Regions from separate parts of the Homo sapiens genome. Here region 1 is linked to region 2. Evidence: fine-mapped expression QTL. A gene starts in region 2. The other region holds a variant in brackets. All regions are shown on one strand. Distances are between the middles of the regions. Region 1 overlaps PFKFB4 (6-phosphofructo-2-kinase/fructose-2,6-biphosphatase 4). Region 2 holds the start of ARIH2 (ariadne RBR E3 ubiquitin protein ligase 2).

Evidence for each region.
Region 1: its variant is fine-mapped to the expression of ARIH2 in fibroblasts (GTEx, PIP above 0.99).

The regions. Positions count from the first base shown.
Region 1 is chr3:48,514,178-48,524,866 of GRCh38, reverse strand. PFKFB4 (6-phosphofructo-2-kinase/fructose-2,6-biphosphatase 4) reads left to right here. Exons shown (of 14, transcript NM_004567.4): 11 at 1,037-1,166; 12 at 1,268-1,330; 13 at 2,817-2,881; 14 at 5,061-7,183. The coding sequence ends at 5,120. Among named protein-coding and RNA genes, the nearest start is that of SHISA5, 15 kb to the right of the region's middle. The variant T/C (reference allele first, on the strand shown) is at 5,135.
Region 2 is chr3:48,912,964-48,923,652 of GRCh38, reverse strand. It overlaps ARIH2 (ariadne RBR E3 ubiquitin protein ligase 2), which reads right to left and starts at 4,811. Exons shown (of 16, transcript NM_006321.4): 1 at 4,655-4,811; 2 at 842-905. It overlaps ARIH2OS (ARIH2 opposite strand lncRNA), which reads left to right and starts at 4,268. Exons shown (of 1, transcript NR_161301.1): 1 at 4,268-5,865. RefSeq lists enhancers at 1,497-1,997, 3,681-4,431, 4,432-5,183, 4,909-5,378, 5,184-5,934 and silencers at 4,489-4,568, 4,639-4,738.

The DNA.
Region 1 (10,689 bases), 400 kb after region 2:
TGAGGGTCACCTTTGACTGAGGCATCTCCTTCCACTTCCAGGAGGTGGCCTGGGGCAGGGGCCAAATAAAAATACACCCCGTCAACACACATATGTACACATATATATACACATGTAGAAGCACCTCCACCCAGAAGCCAGGCTGACAGGTCTCTACACTGTACCATCCTCAGGATAGTATAGCTCTTGGGAACATTAATTATTCCCCACATTATGTTAGGCCAAGTTCAGATTTAGAACCAACCCAGATAACGGTCAGGAGAAACAAAGCAGCTGGCTGCTCAAACATGAGAATACAGTGAGGAGAATTGGTTGAGAAATTCATGTTACCAAAAGAACCGGTCTAGGATTTTCTCAGAACTACCAGGAACTGGCACAAATCAGCGTGTCATTTTTGCTTCCTAATCAAAGCTTGGGGCACGTTCAGTTCTGACTGCTGGAGGCCATTTTTGAAGGACCACTCATTGTGTGCAGAAGGATGAAACTGATGAAAATCTCTAAACCTGCCAGGTTGAGAGGCCCAGCAGGGGCCTAAACCGTACATCACGGCAGGCATAGGGGGAAGATACTGGGCAGGTAGACTGAGGATAGTTCCTGGGGACCCCAGCTGTTTCTGATGAGTCACACTCCAGAAAGTTCCAGGTCTTTGCTCTCTTCCCCTTCGCTCTTGTCAGTGCACTCTGTTTGCTGTGGGCTGGAAGCAGGCGAGGTCTTCTCCACCAGTCACATGAATTCTATAGCTGAGGATTCAGTGCAGAGCCCCATGGGTGGGCACTGAGGTGGACCCTGGGATGGAGCCTGAGGCCTAGCTCTGCGCTCTCAATCCTACCAGGACCTAGCCCTGAGGTGGGAAAGGTGGCCCCTTTCCTCAGCTGCCCACCCCCATGGCCTCAGAAGGCTAGGCTGGAGGAGGCCCAGCCACAGCTTCCCAGAATGGTGAGTAGCTGCAGGAGTGGAAGGTGGCCCAGTGTCCAGGATGTGTCTGTCCCTCCCCCGGAGCCAGGCCTGAGGGACCCCTCTCTGCTTGCCCTTGCAGTCCTACGAGGACCTGGTCCAGAGACTGGAGCCTGTCATCATGGAGCTGGAGAGGCAAGAGAATGTGCTGGTCATCTGCCACCAGGCTGTGATGCGCTGCCTGCTGGCCTACTTCCTCGACAAGGCAGCAGGTGTGGGCTGTGCCCCGGGGGAGGTGGGAAGGTTGTGTGAGAAGGTAGGCACTGTCACCAGGCATTTCTGGTGTGCTAGCCATCCCCCTCTGTGTCTACAGAACAGCTGCCCTACCTCAAGTGTCCGCTGCACACAGTCCTGAAGCTGACTCCTGTGGCATATGGTAAGGAAGCTTCCTGCACATTGACCATGGGTAGCCATGACCTTGGATCTCTGCACAGTTCCATGATTTTCTCCGAATTCCTTGAAAATTGTGTTAGGAGCCCATTCCTCCACCTACTACCCCACCACCTTTCCCAATTTGCTTTTTTTCTTTGAGACGGAGTCTCGCTTTGTCACCCAGGCTGGAGTGCAATGGCGTGATCTAGGCTCACTACAACCTCCACCTCCCGGGTTCAGATGATTCTCTTGCCTCTGCCTCCCGAGTAGCTAGGATTACAGGCGCCTGCCACCATGCCCAGCTAATTTTTGTATTTTTAGTAGAGACAGAGTGTCACCATGTTGTCAGGCTGGTCTCGAACTCCTGACCTTAGGTGATCTACCTGCCTCGGCCTCCCAAAGTGCTGGGATTACAGGCGTGAGCTACCATCATGAGCTACCATCTGCGGCCCTAATTTGCTTTTAAAAAGTTTGTTCTGGGGCTGGGTGCGGTGGCTCATGCCTGTAATCCCAGCACTTTGGGAGGCCGAGGTGGGTGGATCACGAGGTCAAGAGATAGAGACCCTCCTGGCTAACATGGTGAAACCCCATCTCTACTAAAAATACAAAAAAATTAGCTGGGCGTAGTGGCGGGCACCTGTAGTCCCAGCTACTTGGGAGGCTGAGGCAGGAGAATGGCATGAACCCGGGAGGCGGAACTTGCAGTGAGCCGAGATCGCACCACTGCACTCCAGCCTGGGCGACAGAGCGAGACCCTGTCTCAAAAAAAAAAAAAAAGTTTGTTGTGAAAAAGTTTATGTGGCCACAGAAGACCTCCCCAGTGACTTTGCTTAACCATTGCCTACCTGCATGAGGGGCTTTTCTACTGATTTTTCTGAACCCCCACAAGGCCCCTTGGTCCTCAGGGCCTGGACTTTATTCTGGGTGCAGGGCAGTGTGAGTCCCCACCCTGCCTCTTGCTATACCAGCAGAGACTTCAGGCAACTTCTTCATCTCTCAGGTCTTAGCTCTTCACCTTTAACACAGGTGCTCTTGGGGGAATGGCTGTGAAGCCCAGTGGCAGCTGATGTCACTCCAGTGTGTGACAATGGCCTCATCCCCCATTGCACTGTGCACCTGGCACACGGTTGACTGGGCCTTATATGGTAGAGTTGGAATGTGGGTGGTTTGGGGGCCCTGAAGACTTTGAGAGTCAGTAACCTCAACTTAGGCCTGCTGTTCCCCCGATCCCTCTCGGTCCTGGGGTTGGGGAGCCTGGGGCCTCTGTGTGGCCCTGTCTGGGCCGTCACATAGATATGCGTGGGTCTGACAGCGTGTCTCATCCTTCCTCCCGGGGCTCCCCAGAGCTGCCTAAAGTGGAAGAACTAGAGTGAGGCTGAGATGGCTGCTCCATTCCACACGCCCAGACCCCCCTCCAAGAGAAGTTTCTAGCATCTGCAGCTCAGCTGCCTTTCAGGAGTGGGGATGGATTTGCATCTTCCCTTTGGCAGGTTGTAAAGTGGAGTCCATATTCCTGAACGTGGCTGCTGTGAACACGCACCGGGACAGGCCTCAGGTAGCAATGGGGTCACTGCTGGGGTAGCGGGGTGTTCCTGATGTGGGGGTGTCCAGACTGCACATCCTCCAGGGCCAGGCCCAGCTGCGGCACCTGCCAGAGGGAGCTTGAGTCTTCTGCCAAGACTGTTGTCCCATCAGCAGGGCGGGGCCCTGGCTCTGGGTGGGGCCTGCATCAGGCCTTCCCAAGGCACCTGCCCTGGGGATGGGGAAATCCCTGACTCTGGGCCACCAGGCTCAGGAGTGCCTGAACTTGGGTGTGGTTGGAGCCCCAGGACTTGAGGAGCCACAGGGCTCCCAAGCAGCAACTTGGAGGTCTAAGTCAAGGGGGCCCTTGGGCTCAGTGAGAATGAGGCTGGAGGCTAAGAATGAGGCTTCTGGCCTTCTGAGGGCAGGTGGGCACTCTTCCCACTCCCCATCCCTGCAGCCGAGGCCTCATGAGCCCCTTTCCTAACCCCAGCACCTTTAAAAATTAAAATGGGATCATGTACTTTTGGGGAAAGGGCCATGCAGATACTGAAGGGGCCTCAGCATGGGGTGGAGACCTTGGTCCAGAAAAGCAGTCACCACCTGTGCTCCCCAAGTGCCTTGTGGAAGGTAGAAGCTCCTCAGAGTGTAGCTCAGAACCACTCTTAGTCCCATGTGGGGTCCCTCCACAATGTTGGCTCCCTCTCCCACTGGGGCCAAGGATAGGACCTACACTTCTGGGAGCCCCGGTCCCAGTTCCTGGAGGCCACTGCACGGAGAAGGCTCTTGGGCCTCAGTCATGCCTCTTGCCATCCATGATGGGGCCTGCTTGGGCTCTGGGTCCCTGCTGAGGATGCACGTCTTGGGCTGGACCAGGACATCTGGCCTTGGACCTCACAGCACAGGTGTGTAGATGTGTCCTGTCCCTTCCCAACACCACTGCCCCCAAGCAGGACCAGTTACCCTGCAGGCCTCTCTTCCCATTGCTCTGATAGTTCGTGCATGTCTTGGCCAAGTTCAGCCCAGGCCCAATTTGGTACCCACAAGTCACAGGGGAACGTACCTCCCAACGGGCATCCTTTGGGCCAAGGAAGGCCCAGATGGCACTGGGCCCCCAGCGCTGACAGAGTGATGGTAAGAGAGGCCCCTGGGTTGGCAGGGTGATGGTAAGAGAGGTCCCTGGGCCTGGCAGCCCTTGGGAGCTGACCCTACCAGTCCATCACCATAGTGTGGCTGGCGGTCATTCTGCCCACTATGGGTGGGTGCTTCTGAGAGGCAAACCGCTACTAACCCCAGGTTCCTGGATGGCTCCCTTCTGGCCCATCCATTGGGGCAGGCTGTGGTGGAAAAGGGGCGCCTCAGGAAGCCTGCCCAGCAGTAAGAATTATACCTGCCCCTACAATTCCAGGGGCCGGTCCTATGAGCCCAGGCTGTGGGCCATGGGGGCCATGTCTCTCTCCCTGAAGATCTGGGCATGTCATGTTGCATGGGGCAGCAGCTCAGGTCATCAGTGACCTGCTCCTGCAGGTGATGGTTCCGGGGCCCACAGCTGGGAGGAGGGGCCACCAGGCTCTGGGGCACATAAGACAGCCTCAGAGAGCTAAGGGAAGTTTCAGATTCCCTATTCCTCAGGCCTGAGACTCCCTGAGCCCGACAGGCCAAGGATGGGACTGAGCTCTGCAGTTTGGTGGGGTCCTTCTATAGCTGAGGGCTTCAGGAGGCCCTGTACCCCAGTTCTGAGGGGACAGACCAGGCTGCAGACCAGGAAATGCCCATAGGCTTCTGGGGCACCTCTGACACCTGCGTGCCAACACTTTAAACTAGGAAGGAGGCACCCCCAGGAGTTGAACCCCTTCCCTGCCCCACAGATGAGGATAAAATCCCCAAGCCAGGGGTTCCTCCTCAATTGACTCAGCCCTGAGATAGGAGGTGGGAGTGGCCTTGCTTTGGGTATTGCCTGACCTGGCTGCAGTGGAGCAGGAAACGAGGTGGCATCCTCCACCGCACCTTTGTTCTATTGTCCATCCACCCGCTATGTGGCACGAAGCTCTTGGCCATGTATTCTTAGGGAAGCTTGTGGTCTAGAGTCTTGCGGCTGTGGCTGCTACAGTGAGAATGTGAAGCCTGATGAACCACAGTGATGAGGACGGCAGACAGCAGGCATCTCATCTATTCCTGCCATGGAGTGAACGCTCTGTGTTTTTATTGTACAGAACGTGGACATCTCAAGACCTCCAGAGGAAGCCCTTGTCACGGTGCCTGCTCACCAGTGACCATGTTCATCCAC[T/C]GTGACCACTAGGCAGGCACTGCTCTCTGCAGAGGGGGTCATTCCAGGCCCTCCAGTGTGTGTGATAGTCACCATGCCATGCAGGGATATTCTTGAAGCCACACATGGCTGGCGGAACCCAGAGCCCCCACCCCAGCCCACCTGGCTCTTTGTTGACAGTCGGCGACAAGGTTGTGCGTGGCTCCTGACCTGCTGCTAAGAGTCACTTGACCAGACTGCATCTGCATGGGCTGCGCGGAGGTTGCCCAGCCCCAGTTTCTTCCGGCGCAGCTCTTAGGTGTTCACTCTCGCCAGCTCAGTTGGCTTTGTGAAGTGTGAAACCCTACAATGTGAAAGGAAAGTGCTTGCTGTGATGTTCCTACTGTGGCCCAGCTGCCCAGCATGGACCTGGTGACTCTCCACAGGGCCTCTACCATCCTCTCTGTGGCCACTTCCTGAGCCAGAGGCCAGGTCTTCATGGGGCCCTGAGCTTCTGCTGCCTCTGGTGAGAGGGAGAGCCCTTCCCATCCTTACCCACCAGGAACTAGAGCCCCAACCACAGCAGATGCTTCCTGGGCAGCCACTGGCCAGGCCGTTGTATCCATGTCACCCTTAGTTGTGGGCATTCATGAAAGCAATGCGCTTGCTTCAGCACATTGGGATGCACAGAAACGTGAGGGCAGGGGGGCAGTTGTGGTCGCCCCTCCCCAGTTGTGCATGTACCCGGCTACTTAGGTATGCTTAGGGGAGCTGGTGGCCAGGGGTGCCCCTTCAGGCCTGCTCTCACAGTGAAACCACTTCAAGACAGGGCAGGAAGTTACCTTCCTGGTGCACACACCGAAGTGCTCGAGGGAGAGGCTGCCGCCCCCTCTCCCCTTCCCTGGCTGTGGACACTGGCAGCCAATGGGGAGGCGGCCTCTCCCCTGTTGCTGCCCGTGTCCACACAGGAATGTACACTGGTGGCAGAAACATGCATTTGCCATAAATAATTCAGAAACACTTGTATGGTCCTGTAAAACTTCTCTGGTGTTTGTTGACTTCTGCCTGTGGGTCTGAGGAAGGGAGAAGGCAGAACCCATAGGCAGTCCCTGGGCAAGGGAGGATTTTCCCGGCCGCAGCACAGCCTTCCATTCATGTGCACGTGAGTCTGGTGAAAATGGCCTTGTGAAGTCCAGTGTCTGTCATGCCCCTGAGTTCTTTTGGTCCCAGAGAGGCAGCCTGGGCAGTCTGTTTACAGCTGGCAAACAGACTGGCTGGCAAGTTGTGGGGCTGGGTCAGAAAGTGTCTGGACTTGTAATCGGGTGCCCTGCTGTCCACAGGTGGACTCTGGGGAAGCCAGGCCCCTGGATCCCAAGTCCTTTGTGTCCGGAGCCTTTCCTGGCCTGTGCCTGGAGGGTAGCACATCTTTCCAGCCTCCCAGGGCTTTGCAGCCTGCAGATGCCACCTGTCCCTGAGAGAAGTTAGCGTCCCTGGCCCTGGCCGGTGGTCTCTCATCCTTGTGTGCTGCTCTGCTAAGAGATGTCCAAGGCGGAGCCGGGGCAAGATCCTTCCAGACTCATCTGTCAGAGCCCCAAGCCCTTTAGACCCAGAGCCCAAGGACCATGCCTTTGGGACATTAGGACTGCAGCCTTTGCTTCTGTGTATTTTGGAGTTTTGGTGACTTTTGTCACCTGGACACACTCATTTGTTAGCCATAGTGGGTTCCCTTGGTCAGCAACAGTGCATGTACCTCTGGATGTCATCTGAGGTGAGACCACCGAGGCCTTTTCTCTCTGTGTACAGAGGGGAGTTAGGAGTTGCTGGACTGGATGCATTACGAGGACTGGGGACAGGGTAGAGGGACATCCAGGGATCAGGGCATGAGTGGGGGCAACCCCCCGGCCTCTGCCCTGGCATGGTCTCCGCATGGGCTGAGGTGTAGCTGATTGGCTGCCACATTTCGGCCATGCTGGCTGGCGTGCCCATGTTGCAGATATTTTCCCGAGTTCCCCAGAATGGATGGTATTGAATCTCAGCCACATGCAACACTGTGTCCAGCATTCTTTGCAATAAATACTTTTTAAAAAATAATCTCAGGTTGTATTTGGTAGCCAGTTCTCCATTTCTGAAGTGTTTTTTTTCTGGCCTGCTCTGTCGACACCTGGTGCTGTGGTCTTCCTCGCAGGTCTGTGTTGGGATCCTTCGTTCAGCTTCCACCCCCATGTTCACTCTCACTGAAGAGGAATTATGCTGCCCTGGAGTGAGTCCTGGCCTGGCATACATGGGCAGGCGGCCTGGGTCTTCCCTGGGCTGACCTGGGGTATGGGGCCCTTGGCCCTGAACATGAGGCAGATGTGGAGGGGGCAGTGCAGCTGGAGTGGAGCACTGTTAAGGGAAGGATTCTGGGGTCCCTGGGAATGTGGGCTCCAAATGCGGCATTCTTGGGGAGGAGGCCCCGGGAGCTGGGTCAAGGATGTAGTGGCTGCGTGAGGCTGTGGTGACAGTATGCTGACCAGTGTTTTGGTATTTTCTTTTTCTTTTTTTATTTTTATTTTTTGGAGACGGAGTTTCACTCTTGTTGGCCAGGCTGGAGTGCAATGGCACGATCTTGGCTCACCACGACCTCCGCCTCGGGTTCAAGCAATTCTCCTGCCTCAGCCTCCCCGAGCAGCTGGGATTACAGGCATGCACCATCATACCCAGCTAGTTTTTATATTTTTAGTGGAGACAGGGTTTTTCCATGTTGGTCAGGCTTGTCTTGAACTCCCAACCTTAGGTGATGCACCCGCCTTGGCCTCCCAAAGTGCTGGGATTACAGGCGTGAACCACTGCACCCGGCCTATTCTGGTATTGTCTTTGTCACCTGCATCTGGGGTCGGGAAGGTGGAGACAAGGGGCTGGGTGTTCTCTTTCCCATGCCTCAGAACATCATGGGCTGTCCATACTTCCTGCCCTGGAGCTGGCTTTCCGGGAAGTGGGTTGTAGGCGGGGCTCCTCTGTGGGCAAGATGGGGCAGGGCATTGCCGGGTGTTCGCCTGTGCTCCTCCCAGTGTGTCAGGGCAGAGGATGGCTGTCGCTGGGCTGCTTCTGGGTGGTTTGGGGTGGCCAGCAGCTATGTTTCTGCCTTCTCCAACTATGCCAAGGTGTCTGAGGGAGAGGCAACTTTGCAGGATTCAGGTGGTGACTAACCTCTGCCTGGTGAGAGCCTGGGGGACAGCTTCGGGGGTCCTCACCTGTCTCTTGGCTCTGAGTTCCTAGGGTGGACACCTGACTCCCTTTGAGGCTTCTCAGCACTTTTGGAAGAAGGTTTTGAAGATTTTAGTAGAAAACAATAAAAGGAATGAAATATAACAATATCAGAGTTTTTCTTCAGGTCCAGTGTTGTACCATAACCTAGAAAGGGCAATTATATTATTATGTTGAGTAGCATTTTGGGTTACTGGGAAATAATAGCCATCATATAGGGTCACAGGATATTTGTTTTTTATTTTATTTTATTTTTTTGAGACGGAGTTTCACTCTTGTTGCCCAGGCTGGAGTGCAATGGCGTGATCTCCGCTCACTGCAACCTGCCCCTCCTGAGTTCAAGCAATTCTCCTACCTCAGCCTCCCAAGTAGCTGGGATTACAGGCATGCGCCACCATGCCCAGCTAATTTTGTATTTTTAGTAGAGATGGGGTTTCTTCATGTTGTTCAGGCTTGTCTAGAACTCCTGACCTCAGGTGATCTGCCCGCCTTGGCCGCCCAAAGTGCTGTGATTACAGGCGTGAGCCACTGCACCTGGCTATTTTCATTTTTTCTTACACCAATAAGAATGAGCTTGAAAGGATCAGATAATATTTGGATAGAATCAAATATTGTTGCAAAGACATAGGTAGGTTTCAGCAATATTGGATTTATATCTAAAAATATATATATAATACTTCTTACTTGCAGAGAAGAGTGTTGCCATATTTGGTTTAGACTGATCATTACTGGGTACATTATTGTTTAAACGAAACTATTTTATCTTATTTTTGTAAAAACGGGGTCTTGCACCGAACACAGTAGTTCACACCTGTAATCCCAGTGCTTTAAGAGGCCGAGGTGGGAGAGTTGTGTGAGCCCAGGAGTTTGAGACCAGCCTGGGGAGCATAATGAGACCCTATCTCTACAAAAAAAATTTTCAAATGACTAAGTGTGGTGGCACGTGTCTACAGTCCTAGCTACTTGGGAGGCTGAGACAAGAGAATACTTGAGCCCAGAAGTTGGAGGTTGCAGTGAGCCGGGGTCAGGCCACTGCAACCTGGGCGACAAAATAAGACCCTCTCTCAAAGGCAAAAACAAAAACAGGATCTTGCTCTGTAGCTCTGGCTGGTTATGAACTCATGACCAAGCGATCCTCCTGCCTCAGCCTCCTGAGTAGCTGGGATTACAAGCACGTACCACTGTATTGGCAAAACTATTTTATTAAAAGTGAAAAATGAGGTGGGGTACAGCGGCTCATGGCTGTAATCATTTGAGATTAGCCTGGGCAGCATAATGAGACCTTGTCTCTACAAAAAGATCAAAAACTTAGCTGGGCATGGTGGTGCGTGCCTGTAATCCCAGCTACTCAGGAGTCTGAGGGGGGGAGGACCGCTTGAGCCCAGTAAGTTGAGGCTGCAGTGAGCTATGATTTTGCCACTGCACTCCAGCATGAGTGACAGAGCGAGACTCTGTCTCAAAAAACAGAAAAGTGAAAAATGGCTTTGTGGTAGACCACAAGTATATCTGCCACACCTGGCTTGTGGCCACAGGTCTCTTTGGGGAGATTGTGAGGAAAATGCCAGGATGAATCTGTGCTGTTTTTACAGGGCCCTCCTTAAGGGTGCATGCCCCACCTCGTTCAGGGGCCCCTGAGTTTGCAAACTGATTTTTATCTAGAAAATTGGTGAGGGTTTCCTCTCTGTTGCAGTAGAGTCTCTGTCAGTTGGACCTCACACTCTCTTGTTATATAGGTGGGACTCTACTGGCCTCTCCATCTATTTTGGTACTAGGGGTCTGGTGATCGGGTCCCTATTGCTAAAGATTCCTGCAGGTTGCTAAAGATCCCTCCAGGTCTGACCATTCAGATAACCTGTAAATCCTGCATTCCCAGTCTGTGCTCCTCTCTCTCCTCTGGCAGCTCAACACTGCTGCTTGACCCTTGTCACCCCAGACTCCTTGTATCTGCATTGAAATCAAGGAGCTGGCTTGGTGCGGTGGCTCACGCCTGTAATCTCAGCACTTTGGGAGGCTGAGGTGGGTGGATCATTTGAGGTCAGGAGTTTGAGACCAGCCTAGCCAACACGGTGAAACCCTGTCTCTACTAAAAATACAAAAAAATTATCTGGGCCTGGTGGTGCATGCCTATAATCCTAGCTACTGGTGGAGGCTGAGGCAGGAGAATTGCTTGAACCCGGGAGGTGGAGGTTGCGGTGAGCCAAGATCGCGCCATTGCACTCCAGCCTGGGTGACAGAGTGAGACTCCGCCTCAAAAAAAAAAAAGCAATCAAGGAGCCATTTCAACTCTAGTGTCTCCCACTAGAATCCCTAACCTATGGAGAAGAGTCTAGAACCCCTAACCTATGGAGAAG
Region 2 (10,689 bases):
CTACTCAGGAGGTTGAAGCAGGAGAATGGATTGAACCCCGGAGGCAAAGACTGCAGTGAGACAAGATTGCATCATTACACTCCAACCTGGGCAACAAGAGGGAAACTCTATCTTAAAAAAAAAAAAAAACACTCACTATATCTAAGTTGATATGTTAACTATAAATGCTCCCATTTCTAAAAATTAAAAAAAAAACCCTATTAATTGTGGGGCAATAAAAATAATGTTTGCAGTCTGACCTTTTTTTTTTTTTGAGACAGAGTCTCACTCTGTCACCCTGGCTGGAATGCAGTGGCACGATCTCAGCTCACTGCAACCTCTGCCTTCCGGGTTCAAGCAATTCTCCTGCCTCAGTCTCTCAGTAGCTGGGATTACAAGCACATGCCACAATGCCCAGCTAATTTTTTTTGTATTTTTAATAGAGATAAGGTTTCTTTTTTTTTTTTGAGACGGAGTCTCGCTCTGTCGCCCAGGCTGGAGTGCAGTGGCGGGATCTCGGCTCACTGCAAGCTCTGCCTCCCGGGTTCACGCCATTCTCCTGCCTCAGCCTCCCAAGTAGCTGGGACTACAGGCGCCCGCCACTACGCCCGGCTAATTTTTTGTATTTTCAGTAGAGACGGGGTTTCACCGTTTTAGCCGGGATGGTCTCGATCTCCTGACCTCGTGATCCGCCCACCTCAGCCTCCCAAAGTGCTGGGATTACAGATGCAAGCCACTGTGCCTGGCCAGCAGTTTGACTTTTAACAAACTCTTCTGTATGGTAGAGCCACATAATCACAACTAAACTTAACGATGGTGTTTTTTCTTTAGGAGAAAAAGTTAATCTTTAAATTAAAGATACCTGTAATTCTTGGAGATCTCTCAGGCAGATGTCACCCAAGTATTCTACATAATATGATTTCCATCTAAAATGAAAAGAATTATATTTATATTTTTAAAGCTGGTATACTGCTTTTGCAAGTTTATTTTTTTTTTAAAGCAAAGGTATTTTAAAGGACAAGTAACAAGGGACAGAGTAACTATTAAATTAATTATCTTCTTTTAAAGTGCCAACAAAAAAAATCCATGACATAATTATATTGACAAGAGTTACATGACCTTCTAAAAAAAGAAAGTATTCAGCTGGGTGTTGTGGCTCACGCCTGTAATCCCAGCACTTTGGGAGGCCAAGGCAGGTGGATCACCTGAGGTCAGGAGTTCGAGCACCTGTAATCCCAGCTACTCGGAAGGCTGAGGCAGGAGAATCACTCCAACCAGGGAGGCAGAGGTTGCAGTGAGGTGAGATCGCGCCACTGCACTTGAGCCTGGGTGACAAGAAAATTCGTCTCAAAAAAAAAAAAAAGAAAGTAATCTAAGTAAACAGGTAGCAATAATTTAATCTCAATTCTCTCTCTCAGTTTGAAAGACCACTTCTTTTTTTTGTTTGTTTGAGACAGGGCCTCCCTCTGTCACCCAGGTTGGAGTGCAGTGTTGCCATCTCAGCTCACTGTAACCTCCACCTCACCCAGCTGAAAGCCTGCTTCTTTACTCCAGTATTTCTGTCCTTCAGATTCTCAACTACCACAATTTCAATCCTAAATGTTATGTAGATGTTGACCAAGCAAATTGTAACTGACTTAAAATTTAACTTTTACTACAAAATCACCTCCACTGTGGTAATCTAACACAGAATAATGCTAATATTTCAGATCTCACTTTACTCATGCTGTCGTGGCTCATTTATGTCACATTACTCATAAATGTCGTGGTGGTGCATGCCTGTAGTCCCAGCTACTTGGGAGGCTGAGGTGGGAGGATTTCTTGAGCACAGGAGGTTGAGGCTGCAGTGAGCCAAGATCACGCCACTACACTCCAGTCTAGGCGACAGAGTGAGACCCTGTCTTCAAAAAAGAAAAAAAAAAAGAAAAATTCCAGGACCACGTGTGGTGGCTCATGCCAGTAATCCCAGCACTTTGGTTTGGGAGGCCAAGGTGGGTGGACGGCTTCAGCTCAGGAGTTCAAAACAAGCCTGGGCAACATGGTGAAACCTCACTGCTACAAAAAACACAAAAATTAGCCAGGAATGGTGGCGCATACCTGTAATCCCAGCTACTCGGGAGGCTACGGCAGGAGAATTGCTTGATCTGGGAGATGGAGGCTGCAGTGAACCGAGACTGCACCACTGCACTCCAGCCTGGGCAACACAGTGAGACTCCGTGTCAAAAAAAAAAAAAAAAAAAAAGAAATTGCCCACAGGCTTTTCACCAACCAAATATTTAGGTGGGGAAAACTCCAGGCTCCTCCAAAAAAAAAAGAGAGAGAACTCCATTTCATACTAAATGTTCTAGGTGCAGATTTAAATGAAAATTTAATTTTTAATTATCTCAAAGTTAAATACCCAAATTCTACTTGAAAAAGTGGGCCGGGCACGGTGGCTCACGCCTGTGATCCCAACACTTTGGGAGGCTAAGGTGGCAGATCACAAGGTCAAGAGTTCGAGACCAGCCTAATCAACATGATGAAATCCTGTCTCTACTAAAAATACAAAAATTAGCTGGGCGTGGTAGCATGCGCCTATAATCCCAGCTACTCAGGAGGCTGAGGCAGGAGAATCGCTTGAACCCAGGAGGCGGAGGTTGCAGTGAGCCGAGATCGCGCCACTGCACTCCAGCCTGAGAGACAGAGCGGGACTCAAAAATAAAAATAAATAAATGAAAGAAAGAAAAAGTGCTGATCTTGTTCCAAGGGGACAATATTTCTTTTCTTTTCTTTCTTTTTTTTTTTTTTTGAGAGTCTTGCTGGAGTGCAGTGGCGCGATCTCGGCTCACTGGATTACAGGCGCCCGCCACCATGCCTGGCTAATTTTTTGTATTTTTAGTAGAGATGGGGTTTCACCGTGTTAGCCAGGATGGTCTCGATCTCCTGACCTCGTGATCCGCCCGCCTCGGCCTCCCAAAGTGAGGAGGATTATTTGAGTCCAGGAGATTGCAGCGAGCCATGATCACGCCACTGCCCTCCAACCAGCCTGGGTGTAATCCCAGCTGTAATCCCAGCTACTCGGGAGGCTAAGGCAGAACTGCTTGATCTGGGAGATGGAGGCTGCAGTGAACCGAGACTGCACCACTGCACTCCAGCCTGGGCAACACAGTGAGACTCCGTGTCAAAAAAAAAAAAAAAAAAAGAAATTGCTCACAGGCTTCTCACCAACCAAATATTTAGGTGGGGAAAACTCCAGGCTCCTCCAAAAAAAAAAGAGAGAGAACTCCATTTCATACTAAATGTTCTAGGTGCACATTTAAATGAAAATTTAATTTTTAATCATCTCAAAGTTAAATATCCGAATTCTACTTGAAAAAGTGGGCCGGGCACTTTTTCAAAAAAAATTTTTTTAAAGGTCATGCACAGTGGCTCACGCCTGTAATCCCAGCACTTTAGGAGGTCAAACCGGGAGGATAGCTTGAGCCCAGCAGTTCAAGACCAGCTTAGGCAACCTATTAAGATCACGTATCCACAAAAAATTTTACAAATTAGCCAGGTGTGGTGGTACGTGCCTGTGGTCCCAGCTACTTAGGAGGCTAAGAAAGGAGGATCACTTGAGCCCAGAAAGTCGGGGCTGCAGTTAGCTGTGATCGCCGCCACTGCACTCCAGCCTGGTGACAGCAACTTTGTCCCGCCCACCAAAAAAAAAAAAAAAAAAAATTTCCTCCAGAGCCAAAGTCACATGTTCAGGGGACCTAACAACCAACCATCCTGGGCTTGCCCACCACGCACAGAACACGTAAGTTTTAGTGAGTCTGAAGACGTTTACTCCAGATATGATCACTAGCGCTGAATTCAGGTCATTTACTAACTACACCTCCGAAGAAAAACGACTTGGCACAAAACTAGAAATCAGCAATTTCGTTTCAAAATCCTACACTTTGTATCTGTCTTTTCTAATACGGTGACCACTAGCCACATGTGGTTATTTAAATTTAATTACACTTAAAAAGTAAGTAAAATTTAAAATTTAGTTTCTCAGGTGCACTAGCCTACAGGTCAAATGCTTAACGGCCACGTGTGGCTAGTAGCTACCATGCTGAACAGCAAAGGTAAAGAACATGTCGCTATGACAGAAAGTTCTATGGGACCAGGCAATGAACAGTACTAAGGAGAAGTCATCCAAGAACGCGGCTGCCCAACCAGCTTCTGGCGAGGCGGCGGCACAGCTCCGGGGCCGCACATCCCTAGGGGCGCCGCGGGCTCCGGGATATTCGCGCGGACGCGGAGCCCGCGAGCTGGGGATACCCTCCACAGGCGGGCGTTAAACCGCGCGGGCAGCGCTGCGAGAGCTCCCAAAGATGACTCGAGTGGTGAGCCCCGAGGCGGCGCGTTTCCCCGCCGCGCCAGACAGGGAGAGAGGGCCTAGATGTGCCGGCGCCGGTTGGTCAGAGGCGGTGGCCTCTGACCTTTCCGAGAGCTGAGAAGGCGGCGGGAGGAAAAAAGGCAGACACACGCTGGGCGCCCGGCCGCTGACGGCGGGTAATGCTCGGACAACGTGCCGGCGACGGGGAGCGCCCGGGCCTCCCGGGCGACGGCGAAGGCGGAGTCCCGGCCCGGCCAGGGAGGCGCGCGGAGAGGCCCCCCCAGCGGCCAGCCAAGGTAAACAAGGCCGTGACGTGCGCCGCGCACTTACCGGGAGCTGCGGCCTCGCGGCCGCTGAGCCCGAACAAGCCAGACCGGGTCAGGCCGGGCCAGAGGGACCGGATTGGGGCGAAGCGGCAGCGGAGGCGGCGGGCCGACGCCGGTCAAGCCCGCGCTGCTTCCTCCAGAAGAGTCGTCCCCACAGCTCCGGAAGTGCTTGGCGCCGTTGCGTCACTTCCGGATCGGGGTCGACCCACGGTCGCTCGGGTCGCGACAGGCTCCCGGCTAGAGGGCCTGTTTAGCGCCGCCTCCTTGAAACTTAGCGCTCTGACCCAGAGTCTGACCAGGGTACGGCAGGCGCCGACCGCGTCTGGAGCCACTATTCGCCTACCAGCGTCTCCCGTCGAGATGTTTTTAACCAGCGCGTTTCTCACCGGCTTCTCATTTCACTGTTTGTACTCCGGGATCGGGCACGGAGAAGACATCCTGGCGTCAGTGGAGCAGATAACCATTGTTTCTCGGCCGCTATCTGGTCAGAGGGGAGCTGGGCCGGGAAATTCTGCCTACACCCCGAGGCGGTCGCAGGGTGGCCCCAGAGCCGCAACCACACCAGGCTTTCGCTTCCCCTGCCGAGGCCTCGTTCGCCGCGCAGTTCTCCGACTTACGGTCACCGTGCAAGATTGCATCTTAACTGCCTTGCTTGCAGTTTCTTTTCACAGTATAGGAGTTGTCATCATGACTTCCAGTTACCTTCTGGGACCGGTTGTCAAATGATGTGGCTAGAGACGGAGGCTCACTCAGATTGTTGCTGCACCACAATGGAAATGCCAGTATGAAGCCGCTGATGTTAGGAAGGCTCCAGGTTGTGCAATTCCATAGACAACAAATCAAATCATTTCCAACCATACTGGAGTCGCGTATATACATATTCAAGACACCTGTGCAGGCCGGGCGCGGTGGCTCAAGCCTGTAATCCCAGCACTTTGGGAGGCCGAGGCGAGTGGATCACGAGGTCAGGAGATCGAGACCATCCTGGCTAACACGGTGAAACCCCGTCTGTACTAAAAGTACAAAAAAATTAGCCGGACGTGGTGGCGGGCGCCTGTAGTCCCAGCTACTCGGGAGGCTGAGGCAGGAGAATGGCGTGAACCCGGGAGGCGGAGCTTGCAGTGAGTCGAGATGGCGCCACTGCACTCCAGCCTGGGCGACAGAGCGAGACTCTGTCTCAAAATAAAATAAAATAAAATAAAAAATAAAACAAATAAAGACACCTGTGCTGGCTGGTCGCTGTGGCTCATGCCTGTAATCCCTGCACTTTGGGAAGCCGAGGTGGGAGGATCGCTTGAGCCCAAGAATTTGATGTAGTGAGACCCCCCTCCTTTCTACAAAAAAATTAAAAATTAGCTGGGCGAGGTGGCACACACCTGTGCATCCCAGCTACTCAGGGGGCTGAGGTGATATAGGATCGCTTGAGCCGAGGAGGTCGAGGCTGCAGAGTGCCAAGATCGCACCACTGCAGTCCAGCATCGGTGATAGAAGGAGACCCTGTCTCAAAACAACAATAACAAACCATACAATGTAGAAAGCCATTAAAAATCATGCCGCGTGGCCGGGCACCGTGGCTCACGCCTGTAATCCCAGCACGTTGGGAGGCCGGAGCCGGCAGATCACGAGGTCAGGAATTCGAGACTGGCCTGACCAGCATGGTGAAACCCTGTCTCTACTAAAAATTTACAAAATTTGCCGGGCGTGATGGTGGGCGCCTGTAGTCCCAGCTACTCGGGAGGCTGAGGCAGGAGAATTGCTTGAACTCGGCAGGCGGAGGTTGCAGCGAGCAGAGATCGCGCCACTGCACTCCAGCCTGGGGGACAGAGCGAGACTCTGTCTCAAACAACAACAACAACAAAAACCTTGTCGGGTGGACTGCTCTGCCTATGGAGTAGCAATTACTTTTTTTTTTTTTTTTTTGAGACGGAGTCTCGCTCTGTCGCCCAGGCTGGAGTGCAGTGAGAGAGCCGCTATCTCCGCTCACTTCAACCTCCGCTTCCTGGGTTCAAGTGATTCTCCTGCCTCAGTCTCCCGAGTAGCTGGGACTACAGGCGCGCACCACCGCGCCCAGCTAATTTTTTTTTTTTTTTTTTTTTTTTGACGGAGTCTCTCTCTGTTGCCCAGGCTGGAGTGCAGTGGCGCGATCTAGGCTCACTGCAAGCTCCGCCTCCCGGGTTCACGCCATTCTCCTGCCTCAGCTTCCCGAGTAGCTGGGACTACAGGCGCCCGCCACCACGCCTAATTTTTTTTGTATTTTTAGTAGAGACGGGGTTTCACCGTGTTAGCCAGGATGGTAATTTTTGTATTTTTAGTAGAGACAAGGTTTCATCATGTTGGCCAGGATGGTCTGGATCTCTTGACTCCTTGATCCGCCCACCTCGGCCTCCCAAAGTTCTGGGATTACAGGCGTGAGCCACTGCTCCTGGTCTCCTTTGTTTCTTTACTTCTCTAATAAACTTGCTTTCACTTTACCAAAAAAAATGAAATAAATCATACTGGGTGGCAGGGCATGGTGGCTCAAGCCTGTAATCCCAGCACTTTGGGAAGCCAAGGTGAGAGGATTGCTTGAGCCCAGGAGTTGGAGACCAGCCTGGGCAACATAGTGAGATTCCATGTCTACAAAAAAAAGAAAAAGTTTTGGCCAGGTGTGGTGGCTCACGCCTGTAATCCCAGCACTTTGGGAGGCTGAGGCAGGTGGATCACTTGAGCCTAGGAGTTCAAGACCAGCCTGAGCAACATGGTGAAACCCCGTCTCTACAAAAAATACAAGTTAGCTGGATGTGCTTATAGCTCCACCTACTTGGGAGGCTGAGGTGGGAGGATCACTTAAGACCCAGGATGTGGAGGCTGCAGTGAGCAAGAGATCGGGCTACTGCACTCCAGCCTGGGGGACAGAGCCAGAACCTGTCTTCAAAAAAAGAAAAAAAAATGCTGTACTAAGGCACCTATTGACAAGGAAAGGTTATTTGTGATATACTCAAGTGATAAGAATAGGATAGGGGCCGGGTGTGGTGGCTCACACCTGTAATCCCAGCACTTTGGGAGGTGGAGGCGGGCGGATCGCCTGAGGTCAGGAGTTCCAGACCGGCCTGACCAACATGGCAAAACCCTGTCTCTACTAAAAAATACAAAAATTAGCCAGGCATGGTGGTGCATGCCTGTAATTCCAGCTACTCGGGAGGCTGAGGCAGGGAGAATAACTTGAACCCGGGAGGCGGAGGTTGCAGCGAGCCGAGATTGCACCACTGCACTCCAGCCTGGGCAACACAGTAGCTCTGTCTCAAAAAAGAAAAAGTAAATAAAATATGAATGCATATAAAATATACAAAGTCTCTCATGGTTTCTTTGGAACAGGAATCCAGACAAGCCACAATGGGAAGGTTTATCTCAGCTCCACAGCTGAGGGGGCCTCAGCAAGAAGACTCAAAGACTGGGGAGTGGAATCATAGGCAAAGTTGTTTACTCATACTTCTGGTGGGTGATGTCAGCTGGGGGCCTAGCTGGGGCTGTCAGCCAGAACATACACATGCATGATCTCTCCATGTGGCCTGTGCTTCCTGGTAACATGGTGGCTGGATTTGAAGGGCAAAGGTCTTTTTTTTTTTTTTTTTGAGACAGAGTATCACTCTATCGCCCAGGCTGGAGTGCAGTGGCATGATCTCAACTCACTGCAACCTCCTGGGTTCAAGTGATTCTTGTGCCTCAGCCTCCATAGTAGCTGAGATGTCAGGATGACAGGCGTGCACACCATGTTCAGCTATTTTTTCTGTTTTTTTTTCTTTGAGATGGAATTTTGCTCTTGTTGCCCAGGCTGCAGTACAATGGTGCGATCTCGGCTCACCACAACCTCCGCCTCCCGGATTCAAGCAATTCTCCCCGCTCAGCCTCCCAGGTAGCTAGGATTACAGGCATGCACCACCATGCCTGGCTAATTTTGTATCTTTAGTAGAGACGGGGTTTCTCCATGTTGGCCAGGCTGGTCTTGAACTCCTGACCTCAAGCCATCTGCCTGCCTCGGTCTCCCGAAGTGCTGGGATTACAGATGTGAGCTGCCAGGCCCAGTCAATTTTTGTATTTTTAGTAGAAATGGGATTTCACTGCCAGGCGCGGTGGCTCACACTTGTAATCCCAGCACTTTGGGAGGCCGAGACGGGCAGATTGCCTGAGGTCGGCAGTTCGAAACCAGCTTGCCCAACATGGTGAAACCCCGTCTCTACTAAAAAATACAAAAATTAGCCGGGCTTGGTGGTGGGCACCTGTAATCCCAGCTACTTGGGAGGCTGAGGCAGGAGAATTGCTTGAACCTGGGAGGTGGAGGTTGCAGTGAGCCAAGATCGCGCCACTCGTGCCACTGCACTCCAGCCTGGGCGACAAAGTGAGACTCTGTCTCGAGAAAAAAAAAAAAAAAAGAAAGAAATGGGGTTTCACCATGTTGGCCAGGCTGGTCTAGAACCCCTGGTCTCTAGTGATTTGCCTGTCTCAGCTTCCCAAAATTCTGGGATAACAGGTGTGAGCCACTCTGGCCGGCCAAGGGCAAGGGTCTTAAGAGAGTGAGAGCCAAGTGGAAGCCATGTTGCCCTTTGTGGCCTAACCTTCAAAGTCACACGGCATTACATCTGCCACATTTTATTAGTCAAAGCAGTTACAAAGATCCTCTCAGGTTCAAGGGGAGGGAATGCAGCTCCACCGTCAATGGAGAAACACCAACACTGCATTATAAGCAAAGCATATAAAATGAGATACAGGTTGGTGTAGCCATTTTTGGAAAATATGTGTCACAAAGCACATATTGCATATATCAGTATATCTCTCATCTTATTCATCTTTGTTTTTATTGAATTTAATTATGCAACTAATGTAATGATAACATGAAGTTGTAAAAATGTAATACAAGAATACTGATAGCAGCTTGTGAATACTCCCGTTAATATACTCCACCTTTCTTTTCTCCTATTTGGGGTTGTTGCCACTGTCCAGAGTTTGGTGTGCATCCTTCTAGGACACTTTCTATGCATCTAAATACAGTACATGTCGGCCGGGTGCAGTGGCTCATGCCTGTAATCCCAGCACTTTGGGAGGCCGAGGCAGACGGATCATGAGGTCAGGAGTTCGAGAACAGCCTGACCAACATAGTGAAACCCTGTCTCTACTAAAAATACAAAAATTAGTCAGGCATGGTGGCACATGCCTGTAATCCCAGCTACTCAGGAGGCTGAGGCAAGAGAATTGCTTGAACTCGGGAGGCAGAGGTTGCAGTGAGCCGAGATCGCTCCACTGTACTCCAGCCTGGGCAACAGAACAAGACTCTGTCTCAAAAAAATAAAAATAAAAAATAAATAAATAAATTCAGTGTATGTCTATATTTATAGCTACCCACACACACATTTACACAAAGCTTTTCATTAGTAACCTTTTCATTAGTAGCAGGCTATTGCAAATATCATTCTGCTGCTTTTTTCACTTAGTAGAAGCTGCTATTATTATCCCCATTTCACAAACAAGTGATCAAACTAAAGTACTTTTTTTTTTTGAGACGGTGTCTAGCTCTATTGCCCAGGCTGGAGTGCAGTGGCACAATCTTGGCTGACTGCAACCTCCACCTACCGGGTTCCAGCGATTCTCCTGCCTCAGCCTCCCATGTAGCTGGGATTACAGGCACGCACCACCATGCCTGGCTAATTTTTGTATTTTTAGTAGAGACAAGGATTCACCATGTTGGTCAGGCTGGTCTCGAACTCCTGACCTAAAGTGATCCACCAACCTCTGCCTCCCAAAGTGCTGCAATTACAGGCATGAGCCACCATGCCCATCCAAGCTAAGATTCTAACCCCAGGCATCTGAATCCAGAGCCTACCCTTTTGACAGTGCTGTAACCCTTCTGAGTATATAACAGTATAAATGTATTATATTTGAGCAGTCTCCAATTGCAAGTCATCTGTTTCCAATTTTGTTTTGTTTTGAGATAGAGTCTTACTCTGTCACCCAGGCTGGAGTGCAGTGGCGCTATATCGGCTCACTGCAACTTCCGCCACCCAGGTT